Regions from separate parts of the Homo sapiens genome. Here region 1 is linked to region 2. The links come from fine-mapping of genetic effects on gene expression. Tissue or cell type: whole blood. Region 2 holds a variant in brackets; the other region holds the start of a gene. All regions are shown on one strand. Distances are from middle to middle. Region 1 holds the start of SIMC1 (SUMO interacting motifs containing 1). Region 2 has its middle 110 kb from the start of THOC3-AS1.

Region 1 (8,336 bases), 150 kb after region 2:
TAAGTGACATTACTTATAGTTTTAAGGAGGGCAACTTCACAGCCAGTATTCATCCCACCTGGGTTGCCAAGTAAGGGCAGGGTACTTTTAAGCTGTTCTCGTATTATACCACCAGGGGTCCTGAGTTTCCTGTATTTCAGGCAGGATGGCTGATGAGAAAGATACAATCTGAACACTCTTGTGTCTTGCCACAGTAGAGTAGGCCAGAGCTTGGCTAGAATCAGCAGCAGAGGCCAAAAGAAGTAGAGGGATGCAGGAGATGTTTAGGAGGTAAAACAGACAGGACTTGTTGAGGAAAGGGGAGAGATCAAGTGCAATGCTCAGGTTTTTCACTTCAGCAATTGCTGGCTGGTGGAGCCATCACCATAAGACACACAAAGAGAGCAGGCTTTTTTGTGGGTGTGGGGAGCATAAAGGTGAGTTTGGCTTTAGACATATTCAACCTGAGAGGCCTACGAGCTTCAGCAGATGTTTGGATGTATACAACTGGAGTTTTAAGGACAGGACTGGGCTGAGATAAACTCGTGGCAGCCATTGGCATAAAACCAATCACTGAAGCCAGGGAATAGTTGAGATTGTAGAGGGAAGAGGTCCCGTGTGAAAAGGTGGCCAATGTCAGGACTCTAAGGGACATCAAGAGTTTAAGGAGTGAGTAGAGGAGTAGGCGTCAGCTAAGGAGACTAAAAAAAAGTGGTGAGAGAAGTACAGCATCACAGAAACCTACAGAAGACAGTGTTTCAGCAAGCAGGTAGTCAGACACACCAAATGGTTGTGTATTTTGTTTCGTTTTGTTTTATTGAGACAGGGTCTCACCCTATTGCCCCGACTGGAGTGTAGGGGCAGTATCATAGCTCACTGCAGCCTCCAATTCCTGGGCTCAAGGGATCCTCCTGCCTCAGCTGCCTGAGTAGCTAGGACCACAGGCATGCGCTACCACACCTGGCTAATTTGTTTTTATTTTTGTAGAGACAGGGTCTTGCTATATTGCCCAGGCTAGTCTCAAACTCCTGGCCTCAAGCTATTCTCCCAACTCGGCCTCCCAAAGTGCTGGGATTACAGGTGTGAGAGATCACAACCCTAAATGTTTAATAGCTTTAGATGAAGACAACTTAATGAATCCTTTCACAAGGGTGACTTCACCCATTGGACCAGAATGTCTGAAATCTGCTGGGCATAAACTCCCCGTCCACCAGACCAGTGGTTCTCACAGTGTGGTCCCCAGACTAGCAGCATCCACATCACCTGGGCACTTGTTAGAAATGCAAATTTCAGGGCCCCACCCCCAAAATTCTTTTTCTCAATCAGAAAATCTGATGTGTGATTGTTAGTTCATTCTCGAATTGCTATAAAGAAATACCTGAGACTGAGTAATTTATAAAGAAAAGGGGTTTAATTGGCTCACGGTTGTGCAAGCAGTACAGGAAGCATAGTAGCATCTGCTTCTGGGGAGGTCTCAGGAACCTTACTATCAAGACGGAAGGCGAAGGGGGAGTGGACATCACATGGGGAAAGGGGCGAGGTGGGAGGTGCCACACACTTTTAAACAACCAGATCTCAAGAGAACTCGTTATCACAAGGACCGTACCAAAGGGATGGTACTAAACCATTCATAAGAAACCACCCCCATGATCCAATCACCTCCCACCAGTCCCCACCTCTAATATCGGGGATTACAATTCAACATGAGACTTGGGTGGGGACGCAGATCCAAACCATACCAGCAACCCAGCAATCTGTATTTTGTTGAGTTTTTTGTTTTTGTTTTTTTGAGATGGAGCCTTGCTCTGTCCCCCAGGCTGGAGTGCAATGGCACGATCTCGGCTCACTGCAACCTCCGCCTCCCAGATTCAAGCAATTCTCCTGCCTCAGCTTCCCAAGTAGCTGGGATTACAGGCGCCTGCCACCATGCCCAGCTAATTTTTGTATTTTTAGTAGAGACGAGGTGGGCCAGGCTGGTCTCGAACTCCTGACCTCAAGTGATCCACCCGCCTCGGCCTCCCAGAGTGCTGAGATTACAGGCGTGAGCCGCCGCACCCGGCCGCAATCTGTCTTAACAAACACTCTAGGGGATTCTGATGCTCACCAAAGTGTGAAAAACACTGCATTAGACAGTGCTTGGAGAGCACCTGATAACCATTCCTTTAGGAACAAATTCCCCTCCTATTAAACACATTATTCTTTGGATCTGTTAACATATTTTGCAAAACTTCTGGAGCCTGAGCAGCAGGATTTTGTCAATACCCCACATTTAGTGTACCAATAGGTCCTATCTTGATTTTAATGGTCCTGCCCTAAAACCAACCAACCAGCCAACTACCCACCGATTCCTCTACTGGGGACAACCTTTTTCACCTTTATAACTTCTGCTTATTCACAACATCTAATTATTCATGGCCTCTGCTACTTCATGGCTTCTTTTGTGCACCTTTTCAGCTTCTGATCCTGATACCAACTGAACAACTGTCTACGTCAAACTTGTTTAACTCCCTGTTTAACATTAAGAGATTTTTTTTTTCGCAACTCTTTTCCTTTAGGTCATCAGCTATCATTAGTGTATTTTATGTATGGCCCAACACAATTCTTCTTCCTGGGGAAGCCAAAAGATTGGACACCCCTGCTCTAAATCTCAGTTTAAACTCCTGAGAGACACATATTGTTGGTGAAATCGCAAACTGGTACAATTTAGGAGGGTAATTTGGCATCATTTATCAAAACTACAAAAACATGGCCTTTGCCCCAATAAGTCCGCTTTTAGGCATTTATCCTACAGATACACATGGGCGTGTGCACCAAAAAGTGGGGTCTCTCTCTCTCCCTTAGCTCGGCCAGAAGCCAGGTCACCTACCCTCGGTCACTCGGGGGCCAGGACCTCTCTCCCTGCCCCTCAGTCAAGGCCCTCTCAGTCCGGGAGGCGCTTCACACCTGGGCAGGGTGGGACTGGGCGCGCCTCACTTCACGCTTTCGTCGGTTGGAAGCAGGTGGGGAAGTCCCCGCGGCCTCGGCGTCTCGCACGCCTGGCCCCAACACCTGCCGAAGCCGGCTGCGACTCCATTTTTCTTTTTTTTTTTCCTCCTGGGAAACGGAGGACCCGCGCCGCCACGAAGCACAGCGACCCCGGCCCTGACCCCAGCCGCCCGCCGCCGGTGGGCGGGGCTTGGCGGCCCGGCGGGGCGGGGCTCGGGGCGGGGCCGGCGTGGCGGTGGCCCGGGTTGTAGCCGCCGCCGCTGCCGCCGCCCCGCCGCCGCCACCTCAGAAGCAGGAACCGAAGTCGTCGCCGCCGCCGCCACTGCCTGGGTCTTCGGTCGGGGCCCGCAGCCATGGAGGATTTCATCGTGATCTCGGACGACAGCGGCTCTGAGAGCTCCGGGGGCGCCCGCCCGGGCCGGTCGCGGAGGCCGCGCCGGGCCCTGTCGCGAACCTCCGGCGCGCTGCCCCGCCGGACCGTGGTGAGTGAGCGTCGCCTCGTTTGGGGGCGCGCGTCTTCGCGACCCTCGGCTGGGCCCGCCGCCCGCTTCCCGCCCCTGGCGCCTCACAGCTGCAGCCACTTCCCGCCTTGCCTCCTTCCGGGCCTCTCGGGCCCCGGGGAGCGCGGCGGGCCGGGGCAGGGGCCAGGGCAGGGACCGGGGAGGCCGGGCCTCCCAGGCTCAGCGCTGAAGCCCGAGAGGACTGCGGCTGGAAAGCGGCCGAGCACATGGACGAGCTCCTGGCGCGCCTGCTGCAGGGGCTGGGGTCTCAGGCCGGGGCCGCGGGCGTCCTCGGAGCCTCGGCGGGACGTGGGGGCTCGGGTGTACTGGCCGGGCCGATGCAGGAAAGCGGGAGCGCGTAATTCTTCGGCCTGTGGTGGACACAGATGTGTGCAGGGAGGTAACAGGAGCCCAGGCTGGGAGGGAGGGAAGCGCGGGCCTGGGCCAGATGGTGGCCGCGCTCCAGGGCCTGACTGCAGAGCGAGGGGCCCGATTTTGGAGTTGTACAGGAGGGCGATTTATTTCCTCAGCACTTACCCTGTACCAAGCCCTGAAGGAATAGGGAAGGAAACCTCGCGCGCTATTTCTGTTTCCCTCAGAACCCCTTCGTCTTTGTCGTTCATGAGGTGGTGAATTATCTGCCTTTCGAGAATCCTGCATCGATGTTTATTGAATCCCTACTATGAGCCAGATGTTGTAGGGGCCGGGGATACAACGGCGAACACAATATCCATGGTCCCCTCAGAAGGTGATACATCATCAGGTGGTTGTTGAGGACCTACTCAAGCGGTGGGAGGTGGAGCTTTCTCTCAGAAGGCTTCCAACGATCTCCCCAGCCTCCCAGAGCCATCCCCCGGAAACACAAGGATTATCAAGCTGATGTTATGTGTATAGATCATACAGTTTACCATGCTTCCTATGCAAATACTCGTTCAAGACGTTTCCTAGCTTCTGCTGCCCCTGTTCCCTTTCTAGCTGGTTTACAGTCCCTAAACCTCCATTGGGAACCCCTTCTGTGCCCGAGGTACAGTGCCAAGTGCTAGATGATCACTATAGAATGAATAGCATGCAAAACTAGTTAATATATATTATTTTTCAAGCAAGAGGGTTTCTCAGGACGTCTTAGAGACAAATTTAGTTGAGTTAGGCAGCTCATGAGGTAGTGAGAGAAGAGATTTCCAAGATAGAAATGACCCGACTTCATGAGTGAATGGATATATCTAGGGCTGTGGCTGAATGTATCGGACATAATAGATGCACAATAAGTATTTGTTGGATGAAGGAACGATTGAAAGAATATGGGGAGAGAGAATGGTTTAGATGGATGTTTGATAAGTATAAGAGAAGTGCATATAAAAGTAGCAGCAGGCTTGAGATGAAGGAGATGCTGAATTCAGGTTGGACCTGTTGGATTTACAGTGTTAATAGGAAATGTAGATGGATGTGGCCAGCTCAGTAGTTGGAGAAAAGGCAAGAATGGAGATATTTGGCAATCATGCAAACAGAAAGGAGTATTGAAGGCCTAATAGTGACTGAGATCATCAAGGAAAAGAGTAGAGAGAGAAAAAAGGTGGAAGGGAAAAAATACTTCTTTCCTCCTAGTTCCTCCTCATTCCTATAGCCTCTTCTCTCACTACCTGTTTAACTTTGTCCTTCCCACTTGCTTCCTTTCCTCCCAAGTGTTGTCCATTTTCCCTCATTCTGGTCCAGCTTCCTTCTTCAGTGGTCAGATGCCATGCTTATCTCAGTCTTTTGTGGTCTTTCACATACGTACATGGGCGTAGTCTCTCACTGTTTCCCTCACTTGTGACCACTCAAGCAAGCATTTTGATCTTGAGCCTTTGAGTTGAATCGAAATGAGGGGCAAGTTCCAGAGAGCAGTACCCAATTTAAATCGTGCTTCTCCAGATATTTATTCCAGCTCTCTAAAAGCTCCAAGCTTATTCTCGTTTTATCTTTTTTGCAAATTAGATAAGAGTGGTATGATAACCATGTAAAAGATCAGAGGCATTGAGAGACTTGCAAGGTTATAAAGTCTAAAAGTGCCCTTTTCTTTGTAGCTTTTCCTGAAGGCTCTGAGGTCAGAGAGACTTCTGAATCAATATCTCCAGCATAGCAACTATTTGAGTTTTGGAAAGTTCTGTCAACTCTCAGCTTTTGAGCCTGAGAACATTAATGCCTACCTAGCAGGATGGTTTTAAATTTTTAATGAGACAAATGCAAGGAAAGGATCTCATATAAATGATAGCTTTTGCCACTTTTTGTGTTGTTTCTAAGCCCAGGCCTGTCCCTCTTGAGCTTCACAGGCAATGAAATAAAAGAAGCAACTTTTACATCTTTTTTTTTTTTTTTTAATAGATATTGACTAAGGGGAAGTAACTTGCTTGAACTTGAGAAAGCCATGTCTAATGCTGAAGTTGACATTTCTGAACTCTTGATTCTTAACCTGGGCTTTAGTCTTCACTGAGTCGATGAGGTGTGTTTCTGTGTTTATCATGGCTTTTTCGTTTGGGATTTTTTGTTTTTCGTTTTTTTACTTATAAAAACAGAACATTTTCAGATGGTTAATTTTGTTGATCTAATTATACAATTTTTATAAATGTATAAAGAAGAAAATTAAAATTGCCCGTAATCTCACTATCCAAAGATAACCAATGTTAACATTTTGATGTATGTCTATGTAAATGTTTACTTGCATACACACATGTGCATACATACATACCTATGTGTCCTCCCCATACATGTTTTTATGACCTCCTCTTAATGGATATTATGCCTTCGTTTCTAAATTTTCTCTAAGAACCCAGTGAAAAATTCCCTCATAATCTTTGTACTCTTGTTCATTTGTTTATTAAGTTCCTCTTAGAAGTTAGATTGCTGAGTCAAAAGGTGTGCCCTACTTTATATGTAGCTAACCCTTGAAGAACACGGGGATTAGGGTTGCTAACCCCCCCGTGCAGTTGAAAATTTACATGTAACATTTGACTCCTCGAAAACTTAACTACCAGTGGCCTACTGTTGACTGGAAGCCTTACCAGTAACATAAGCAGTTAACTCATGTTTTGTATGTTATATGGACTCTTACGATAAAGTAAGCAAGAGAAAAATGTTAAGATCATAAGGAAGATAAAATACATTTACAGTACTATACTGCATTTGTCAATACCATAGGTTTACATCGTCTGTTTACAAGATAAATCATCTGTCTGAAATAGGGGACAACCACAGCTGCAGACCTCTATCTACGGTACATCTCAAGCGATTCAGCTTTTCTTATGTCATGACTTTTCTCTGTTTCTTGAGAGCACATCCAGCATCACTAAGCACTTTGTATGGGTTTCATGGTGTTATTCAAGGTTTACGATATTACCCTACACATGATTAAACAAGTATATGTGGAAAAAAACCCAGGAGAGAACACTTGTTACCGTGATACACAGTTTACTGGGAAGTAGTGCAGAAATTGATTAGTGTCACGTGGCGTTTTAAGTGGATCCTCACAACACTTGAGCCCACCACAGCAGCAGCAGATGTCTGTGGTAGTAGGACATTATTATCACGGTAGTACAGTGTAGTCTATGGTAAATTTTATGCAGTTGTGATACAAATTAAAAAGAAAAAAATAATGAATTTAAAAATATGCAGTTGTGAGTTAATATTGCATCTTTACATTTCTGTCAACTGCAGATGTCACCATCTATGGTCAGTAAGTGATTGTGTGCATAAATTTTGATAAAGTTTAACTTTGTATAATAGATTTGTGTTGATTTTATGGTAGTAAATGGATAAAATAGGCTAGTATCTACATATATTTTATGCATTCAGGACATATCTTTTTCTTAGTTTTTTTCAATTTTTATAGGCTGTGGAGTTCATCTGTGAGTTTTCCAAATTGTTATAAATCGCCAAAAAATTTTCCAATATATTTATTGAAAAAAACTCTCTTGTAAGTGGACCCATGCAGTTCAAACCTGTGTTGTTCATGAATCAACTGTATTGCCAAATTTCCTACAGAAATTGTGCATTAATATTCTTACCAGTGGTATATGGCCAATCATATCTCTTTCTCTGCTGCCTAGTCACCCCTAGGTATTGTTACATTATTCCATAAATATTTATTGAACACTTATTATATACCAGGCACTCTTAGAGGTGCTGGGAATACATCTATGAAAACCAAGTCCCTGCCGTCATGGAGATTTCATTTTACTGAGGGGACACAGATAGTAAACAACACTATAAATGTAATGTCAGGTGATAATACAGAGTGTTAGGGGAAAAAATACGGTATTTTTGTTCTTTTAATCTTTGCTGTTTGATAGCCAGATTCCATAAGATGTCATTATTTTTTATTTTTTTATTATGATTCATTTATTCAATAAATATTTATTGAGCATATGCTGTAACCCTGGGGACCAGAGGTGAACAAGATGATAATGGAACTACATTCTACTGTGGAAAGATAGGCAGTAAACAAACTAACAAATAAGAGAACAGTATAATAGTAACTTTGGTGGGATTGGGAACATTTGATTGTGTTTTCAGAGAAGGCCTCTCTGAAGAGTTAATATTTGACCTGAGACTAAAATGACAACAAATTAGTTATAAGATCTAGATGAATAAGGCATTGTCAAAGGGAACAACAAAACCAAAAGTTTGGAGGCGGGAATGAGCATGACTTACTGGAAGAATGGAAAGCCAGTGAGGCTGCAATGTAACGACTGATGGACAGAGTCAGAAGAGATGAGAAGTAGGTAGGTTAGGTTATAGGGCTTTGGAGACCACAATAAGGGATTTGGATTTTATTGTAATACAGTAAGAAATCTTTGAAGGTTTAAGCAGGACAGTGACATGATTTGATTTACTTTTTTT
Region 2 (8,336 bases):
CTCCTGGTTTAGTCTTGGGAAGGTGTATGTGTCGAGGAATTTATCCATTTCTTCTAGTTTTTCTAGTTTATTTGTGTAGAGGTGTTTATAGTATTCTCTGACGGTCATTTGTATTTCTGTGGGATCGGTGGTGATCTCCCCTTTATCATTTTTTATTGCCTCTATTTGATTCTTCTCTCTTTTCTTGTTAGTCTTGCTAGCAGTCTATCAATTTTGTTGATCTTTTCAAAAAACCAGCTCCTGGATTCATTGATTTTTTGAAGGGCTTTTTGTGTCTCTGTTTCCTTCAGTTCTGCTCTGATCTTAGTTATTTCTTGCTTCTGCTAGCTTTTGAATGTGTTTCCTCTTGCTTCTGTAGTTCTTTTAATTGTGATGTTAGGGTGTTAATTTTAGATCTTTCCTGCTTTCTCTTGTGGGCATTTAGTGCTATAAATTTCCCTCTAACACACTGCTTTAAATGTGTCCCAGAGATTCTGGTATGTTGTGTCTTTGTTCTCGTTGGTTTCAAAGAAGATCTTTATTTCTGCCTTCATTTTGTTATGTAGCCAGTAGTCATTCAGGAGCAGGTTGTTCAGTTTCCATGTAGTTGAGTGGTTTTGAGTGAGTTTCTTAATCCTGAGTTCTAGTTTGATTGCACTGTGGTCTGAGAGACAGTTTGTTATAACTTCTGTTCTTTTACATTTGCTGAGGAGTGCTTTACTTCCAACTATGTGGTCAGTTTTGGAATAAGTGCGATGTGGTGCTGAGAAGAACGTATATTCTGTTGATTTGGGGTGGAGAGTTCTGTAGATGTCTATTAGGTCTGCTTGGTGCAGAGCTGAGTTCAATTCCTGGATATCCTTGTTAACTTTCTGTCTCGTGGATCTGTCTAATGTTGACAGTGGGGTGTTACAGTCTCCCATTATTATTGTGTGGGAGTCTAAGTCTCTTTGTAGGTCTCTAAGGACTTGCTTTATGAATCTGGGGGCTCCTGTATTGGGTGCATATATATTTAGGATAGTTAGCTGTTCTTGTTGAATTGATCCCTTTACCATTATGTAATGGCCTTCTTTGTCTATTTTGATCTTTGTTGGTTTAAAGTCTGTTTTATCAGAGATTAGGATTGCAACCCCTGCCTTTTTTTATTTTCCATTTGCTTGGTAGATCTTCCTCCATCCCTTTATTCTGAGCCTATGTGTGTCTCTGCACGTGAGATGGGTTTCCTGAATATAGCACACTGATGGGTCTTGACTCTTTATCCAATTTGCCAGTCTGTGTCTTTTAATTGGAGCATTTAGCCCATTTACATTTAAGGTTAATATTGTTATGTGTGAATTTGATCCTGTCGTTATGATGTTAGCTGGTTATTTTGCTCGTTAGTTGACGCAGTTTCTTCCTAGCCTTGATGGTCTTTACAATTTGGCATGGTTTTGCAGTGGCTGGTACCGGTTGTTCCTTTCCATGTTTAGTGCTTCCTTCAGGAGCTCTTGTAGGGCAGGCCTGGTGGTGACAAAATCTCTCAGCATTTGCTTGTCTGTAAAGGATTTTATTTCTCCTTCACTTATGAAGCTTAGTTTGGCTGGATATGAAATTCTGGGTTGAAAATTCTTTTCTTTAAGAATGTTGAATATTGGCCCCCACTCTCTTCTGGCTTGTAGAGTTTATGCCGAGAGATCAGCTGTTAGTCTGATGGGCTTCCCTTTGTGGGTAACCTGACCTTTCTCTCTGGCTGCCCTTAACATTTTTTCCTTCATTTCAGCTTTGGTGAATCTGACAATTATGTGTCTTGGAGTTGCTCTTCTCGAGGAGTATCTTTGTGGCATTCTCTGTATTTCCTGAATTTGAATGTTGGCCTGCCTTGCTAGATTGGGGAAGTTCTCCTGGATAATATCCTGCAGAGTGTTTTCCAACTTGGTTCCATTCTCCCCGTCACTTTCAGGTACACCAATCAGACATAGATTTGGTCTTTTCACATAGTCCCATATTTCTTGGAGGCTTTGTTTGTTTCTTTTTATTCTTTTTTCTCTAAACTTCTCTTCTCGCTTCATTTCATTCATTTGATCTTCCATCACTGATACCCTTTCTTCCAGTTGATCGAATTGGCTACTGAGGCTTGTGCATTTGTCACATAGTTCTCATGCCATGGTTTTCAGCTCCATCAGGTCATTTAAGGACTTCTCTGCATTGGTTATTCTAGTTAGCCATTCATTTAATCTTTTTTCAAGGTTTTTAACTTCTTTGCCATTGGTTTGAACTTCCTCCTTTAGCTCGGAGAAGTTTGATCATCTGAATCCTTCTTCTCTACTCGTCAAAGTCATCCTCCATCCAGCTTTGTCCTGTTACTGGTGAGGAGCTGCGTTCCTTTGGAGGAGGAGAGGCACTCTGATTTTTAGAATTTTGAGTTTTTCTGCTCTGTTTTTCCCCATCTTTGTGGTTTTATCTACCCTTGGTCTTTGATGATGGTGACATACAGATGGGGTTTTGGTGTGGATGTCCTTTCTCTGTTTGTTAGTTATCCTTCTAACAGCCAGGACCCTCAGCTGCAGGTCTGTTGGAGTTTGCTGGAGGTCCACTCCAGACCTTGTTTGCCTGGGTGTCAGCAGTGGAGGCTGCAGAACAGCGAATATTGAGGAACAGCAAATGATGCTGCCTGATTGTTCCTCTGGAAGTTTTGTCTCAGAGGAGTAGCTGGCCATGTGAGGTGTCAGTCTGCCCCTACTGGGTGGTGCCTCCCAGTTAGGCTACTCGGGGGTCAGGGACCCACTTGAGGAGGCAGTCTGTCCGTTCTCAGATCTCAAACTGTGTGCTGGGAGAACCACTACTCTCTTCAAAGCTGTCAGACAGGGACATTTAAGTCTGCAGAGGTTTCTGCTGCCTTTTGTTTGGCTATGCCCTGCCCCCAGAGGTGGAGTCTACAGAGGCAGGCAGGCCTCCTTGAGCTGCGGTGGGCTCCACCCAGTTAGAGCTTCCCAGCCACTTTGTTTACCTACTCAAGCCTGGGCAATGGCGGGCGCCCCTACCCCAGCCTCGCTGCAGCCTTGCAGTTTGATCTCAGACTGCTGTGCTAGCAATGAGCGAGGCTCCATGGGCGTAGGACCCTCCGAGCCAGGTGCAGGATATAATCTCCTGGTGTGCCGTTGGCTAAGACCATTGGAAAAGCGCAGTATTAGGGTGGGAGTGACCTGATTTTCCAGGTGCTGTCTGTCATCCCTTTCCTTGGCTAGGGGAGGGAATTCCCTGACCCTTTGCACTTCCCGGGTGAGGCAATGCCTTGCCCTGCTTCGGCTCACACTCAGTGCGCTGCACCCACTGTCCTGCACCCACTGTCCTACAATCCCCAATGAGATGAACCTGGTACCTCAGTTGGAAATGCAGAAATCATTCGTATTCTGCATCGCTCATGCTGGGAGCTGCAGACTGGAGTTGTTCCTATTCGGCCATCTTGGCTCCACCCCCTATTAATGCAGTTTTTGTGCCTCATTAATGACCCATTTGATTTAATAGTTCTTAAAACTTGTGATGAATCAACAGTGATGGAAAGTTGTACTGAATCATATCTTTTTTTATTACTATGAATTATATTGTTAGAGATTGGCTTTAAAATTGAAGTTACACTAATGCATTTTAAATGTAATTTGGAGCTAGTTTAGAATTGTTGAAGCTAGGACTCTCTGGTGACTCAGGAATAGTAGAAATTGGTGGGGAAGGCATTTCACATCAAGCCTGGAATCTCCCTTTATTCTCAATGTATTAGCTTTTCTTATCTTTACCCTGAAATTTTCACTATCAAATATATTTGAGAGGCAAATCTTTTTCCTCCTTTAATGTTTGTTTCATACACATAGAATAATACTGTGTGTCTGAGATTCAGTTTTTGAAATGAAACATGGAGTCTAAGTGACCCCTTGTCGATGTGACAATGGACTGGTCTAGATCACAGCAGTTGGGCCCCATATTGTGACATGGATGCTTGCGAAAATTCTACTGTGACCTGTTGCTGAGGTGATCTGATGATATAGGTCTTGCCTTTCATTTTAACTGCCATTCTGGCAACTGAACGTTGGCAGTAAACGCAGCTTAGTTGTCTCAGAGGACTCACAATGGGATGTGCTTATAGTTGTTGCCTCGAAGGTATGTATGTTCATTTCCATCTTCTGACTGCAATTTCTTCAGATAAGCCAGTTTTCCTGTACGTTAAATGTCATTCTG[A/AT]TTTTTTTTTATTTCCCCAGCTCCTATTTGTCTACAGATTTATAAATATGTTTCAGAGTTTTATTACTCAATTTGTGTTTTTTTATTCTTCTATCAAGATTTTTGCCTCAAATACTTTTCTCTAGAAAATACACTGCTTCCAATGCCAATTTTTTTTTTTTTTTTTTTTTTTTTGGAAGAGTCTTGCTCTGTTGCCTAGGCTAGAATGCAGTGGTGTGATAATGGCTCACAGCAACCTCCACCTCCCAGGTTTAAGCAATTCTCCTGCCTCAGCCTCCTGAGTAGCTGGGATTACAGGCATCCGCCACCACGCCTGGCTAATTTTCGTATGTTTAGTAGAGACAGGGTTTTACAATGTTGGCAAGGGAGGTCTTGAACTTCTGACCTCCTGATCCACCTTCCTTGGCCTCCCAAAGTGATGGGATTATAGGCATGAGCCACAGAGCCTGGACTTTTCTTTTCTTTTTTTTTTTTGGCAGAGTCTCATTCTGTCACCCAGGCTGGAGTGCAGTGGCACAATCTCAGCTCTTTGCAACCTCTGCATCCCAGGTTCAAGCGATTCTCCTGCCTCAGCCTCCCAAGTAGCTGGGACTACGGGTGCCTGCCACCATGCCTGGCTAATTTTTGTATTTTTAGTAGAGACAGGGTTTCACCATATTGACCAGGCTGGTCTTGAACTCCTGACCTTGTGATCTGCCCACCTTGGCCTCCCAAAGTGCTGGGATACAGGTGTGAGCCACCACACCCGGCCTCCCCCGCCACACACACTCTTTCATAGACTAGATACAGAATAAACTGCTGAAAAATCCACTGGGGGGCCACATTTTCAGTTAATTCCCATTAATTGCTTCTTCAGAATGGTTCAGTTGAAGGGAAGTTTATTCTTGGCACAGCCATCAAGTGGTAGTTAGTTTGGAAGGTCCTAAGTTCCGAACTACCTTGGGGGCCAAGCAGAACTTGGTCCCTTGCTGTGGTCAGTTGGTCATGGAGGGGTGCTCACTGCCAGACAGCTGACAATACAGGGCAATGGGTAGGATGACCAGACATTTGAATTTGTTCCTCAGAGAGGCTTCGTTTGCAGGAAAGTGCCATATTTTAGCCCAGGAGTTAAAACCTAGAGACAGGAGTTTTGTTTTGTTAAATGATTTGGCTTTTTTCTGGACTCACCACCTCTTCCAAATACATCAACCTTCCTGAAGAGCCCTTGGTGCAGGAGGATTGAGAAAGGGAGTGGAAAGAGCTCCAGGTTCAGGGTCCAGGCCATGATTTAGAGGCCTCAGGTATTCAGGGATCTCTGTCCCCAGAAAACCAGCCAAATTCTTGTCCCAGATCTATCATTCGTCAGTGTTGTGACCCTAGGCAGGTCGCTTCAAATCTCTTCATTTCACTTCCCTGAACCGTCACCTCTGAGTGGCAGCCCCTGCTCTGCCCATCTCTCTGGGCCTATGTGGGCATCACAGGAAATTCAAACAAAAACTTTTCACGAGTTCTAAAGCATGAGACCCATGTCAAGAATGAAAAGAATTTTAGCCTCCACTGCCCTGGAGTCCCCCAAGTGGCTTCTCTATTAACCACTACCAAGGGCCTGGCTTATTCTTCCAGACATGAAATAATTGAACACTTTATGGCACTTAGGAAGCACCCGTTTTAAGGCTTTAGGTCCATTTAACTATTCTTACCCTTTTAACATAACGTAGGCCATTAGGAGGCACAGAGGGATCTATAGAACTTCCTCAGGTTCTAGCAGCTTCTCAGAAGTCCCTGAGCTCAGATCCTATGCTCCGGACCCTATGCTCTTGGTCACTCCAATCTACTACCTTTCTGTAATGTCTCATCTCAATACAGGCATTTGCCTGCACACTTATACGTGCAACCCACAGTGCAAGTCTTTCTGAAGCCCAACTCAGATTCAGGGGGCTTTGCTCTGCAGATGATGAACAATGGAATCAAACATTTAAGCTGTGAATAAATAATTACTCATTTCTCTGATCTTTTGCGGCAAGACACCAACACCTGTCTTTATTTTAATTCATTTCCCAGTGTGTTGTGGCGAGGATGAAATAGTGTATCCTAGGATGCCAGGGGAATCCACCGTCTGCCACCGCGAGCGTGAGAAGCCAATCACCTATCACTGGTATCACTGGCATCCCGGCCATATATACCCTAGAGTTGCATCAATGGAAGGTGTTGTGGAAATTCAGTCATTCAGTTCATTCATGATATGATTTCTAGATTCTTCAGTGTCTCATATTTCAGACAATTATAAAATTGCGATGCTATATTCTTTATTTCATGTGTGCATATTTAAATGTGTTAAGTCAATCACTAGTGCTACAACCAGAGGAGTAAAGGTGTATTTCCATTCCAGATTTGGGTTTACTTTTAATAGTAAATAACATCTCAGTGCAAATTGTAGACATTTTGCTGATTGTTAAAACATTAATTAAAAAGGATCTTTTTCTGAGACAGTGTTGCCAGGTTTGTAAAGTAATGGACATCACTTCAAACTGTTTGGAAGTAACCGAAAAATGGAGGAAGTGGCAACAAAACTTTCCATATACCCACCTTCCTCAGTATTTTTTGGTGATCCCATCTTTGTGAGTGTGATAACGCTCGTAACAATGACTGAGCCAATAGTGATACATTCTTATGAACAGAAGTCCAAGGTTAGCATCAGTGACTGAGCCAATAGTGATACATTCTTATGAACAGAAATCTAGGGTTAGCATCAAGGTTCACTCTGTGTTGTCCAGCCTATGGGTTTTGACAAACTGACAATGTCTTTTGTCACCCTGACGGAATAATTTCACATCCTACACATGACCTGAGCTGCATCTACTAATTCCTCTCCTTTTCTGAGGATTCCTGACAACTATGGATGATTTTACTGCCTCTATAGGTTTCCTTTTCCAGAATTGTATAGAGTTGGAATCATAGAGTATGTAGCTACGTATAACTAACTTATTTTACTTAGCAATATACATGTAAGATCTTTTGTATCGTTTTGAAGCTTAACAGCTTAATAATTCTTATCAGTGAACAATAGTCCATTGGTTTCATCGAACAGGGTTAGTTGGTTCACTCACTGCCTGAAGACCATCTGAGCTGCTTCCAATTTGGGTAATTATGAATAAAGCTGCCCACATTCTTGTGCAGATTTTAAGATGAACATAATTTTCTAATTTAGCTGGGTAAATATGTAGAATTTTGATCACTTGCTGGTAAGACTATGTTTTCCATTGTGTTAGGCAGAATTCACCAGTACAATTATGTGGGCATTTTTTTTTAAGTTATTACTTCCTGATTAAATTCTATAATGATAGAGGCCTACTCAGATTATCTATCTCTCCTTTGGGTGGTTATGGTAGTTTCTCCCTTTGAAGGCATTTGTCCATTTCATCTAAGCTAGGAAATTTGTGGGTGTAGACACTTGAATCTGACAAGTTGCCTGCTTGGTTCTCATCAAAGGCTACTGTGCTTCCTGTCATTCCTACTCTCAAACTTTTCAATAGACTTTCACTCCTGCACTTAAAAAATTGCAGGCATAGATTTGTTGAAAGTATTCTGTTATTATTTTCTTAATGATTATGGGATCAGCAAGGATAATTCCTCTTCTATTCATATTGTTTGTACATCGTGTCTTCTGTATTTTCTTTGTGATTAGCCTTGCTGGAGGTTTACCAATTCTATTGATCTTTTCTAAGAAGCAGCTTTTGGTTTTGTTGAGTTTCTTTATTTTATTATTTCTATTACATTGATTTCTGCAAATATTGTTATATTTTGGGGGAGGAGTGTTGCCTGGTTTACATTACACTACACTTTTTTCTCTAGTTTCCTAAGGTGGAAAGTAAGACATCTGGATTTGGATTACATTTAGTTTACTGCACAGAATTGTGAATGGCACTGATGCCCCTGAAGTGTGCACTTGATTATTAAAATAATAAATATGATGTATTTTGGCCACAATACTGATTTTAAAGCCAATTAAATGGATGATAAGTACAGGAGGAGCATATGTAGATCAAGGAAAGATAAATGACATTATAACATTTCAACAACAAAAGAAATTTACCGGGCCTCAAAATGCACAAGGGGGTGATGGGACACTGTCATGAAATCAGCAGTGCATTTGTGTGCCACCCTGTGTG

Evidence for each region. PIP is the estimated chance that this variant, and not a neighbour inherited with it, causes the effect.
Region 1: it holds the start of SIMC1, and the variant in region 2 is fine-mapped to the expression of SIMC1 in whole blood (INTERVAL, PIP 0.94).

The regions. Positions count from the first base shown.
Region 1 is chr5:176,235,192-176,243,527 of GRCh38, forward strand. SIMC1 (SUMO interacting motifs containing 1) reads left to right here and starts at 3,233. Exons shown (of 10, transcript NM_001308195.2): 1 at 3,233-3,446. The coding sequence starts at 3,318. RefSeq lists silencers at 2,905-3,024, 3,075-3,194.
Region 2 is chr5:176,080,884-176,089,219 of GRCh38, forward strand. It overlaps the pseudogene FAM153B. Among named protein-coding and RNA genes, the nearest start is that of THOC3-AS1, 110 kb to the left of the region's middle. The variant A/AT (reference allele first, on the strand shown) is at 4,189.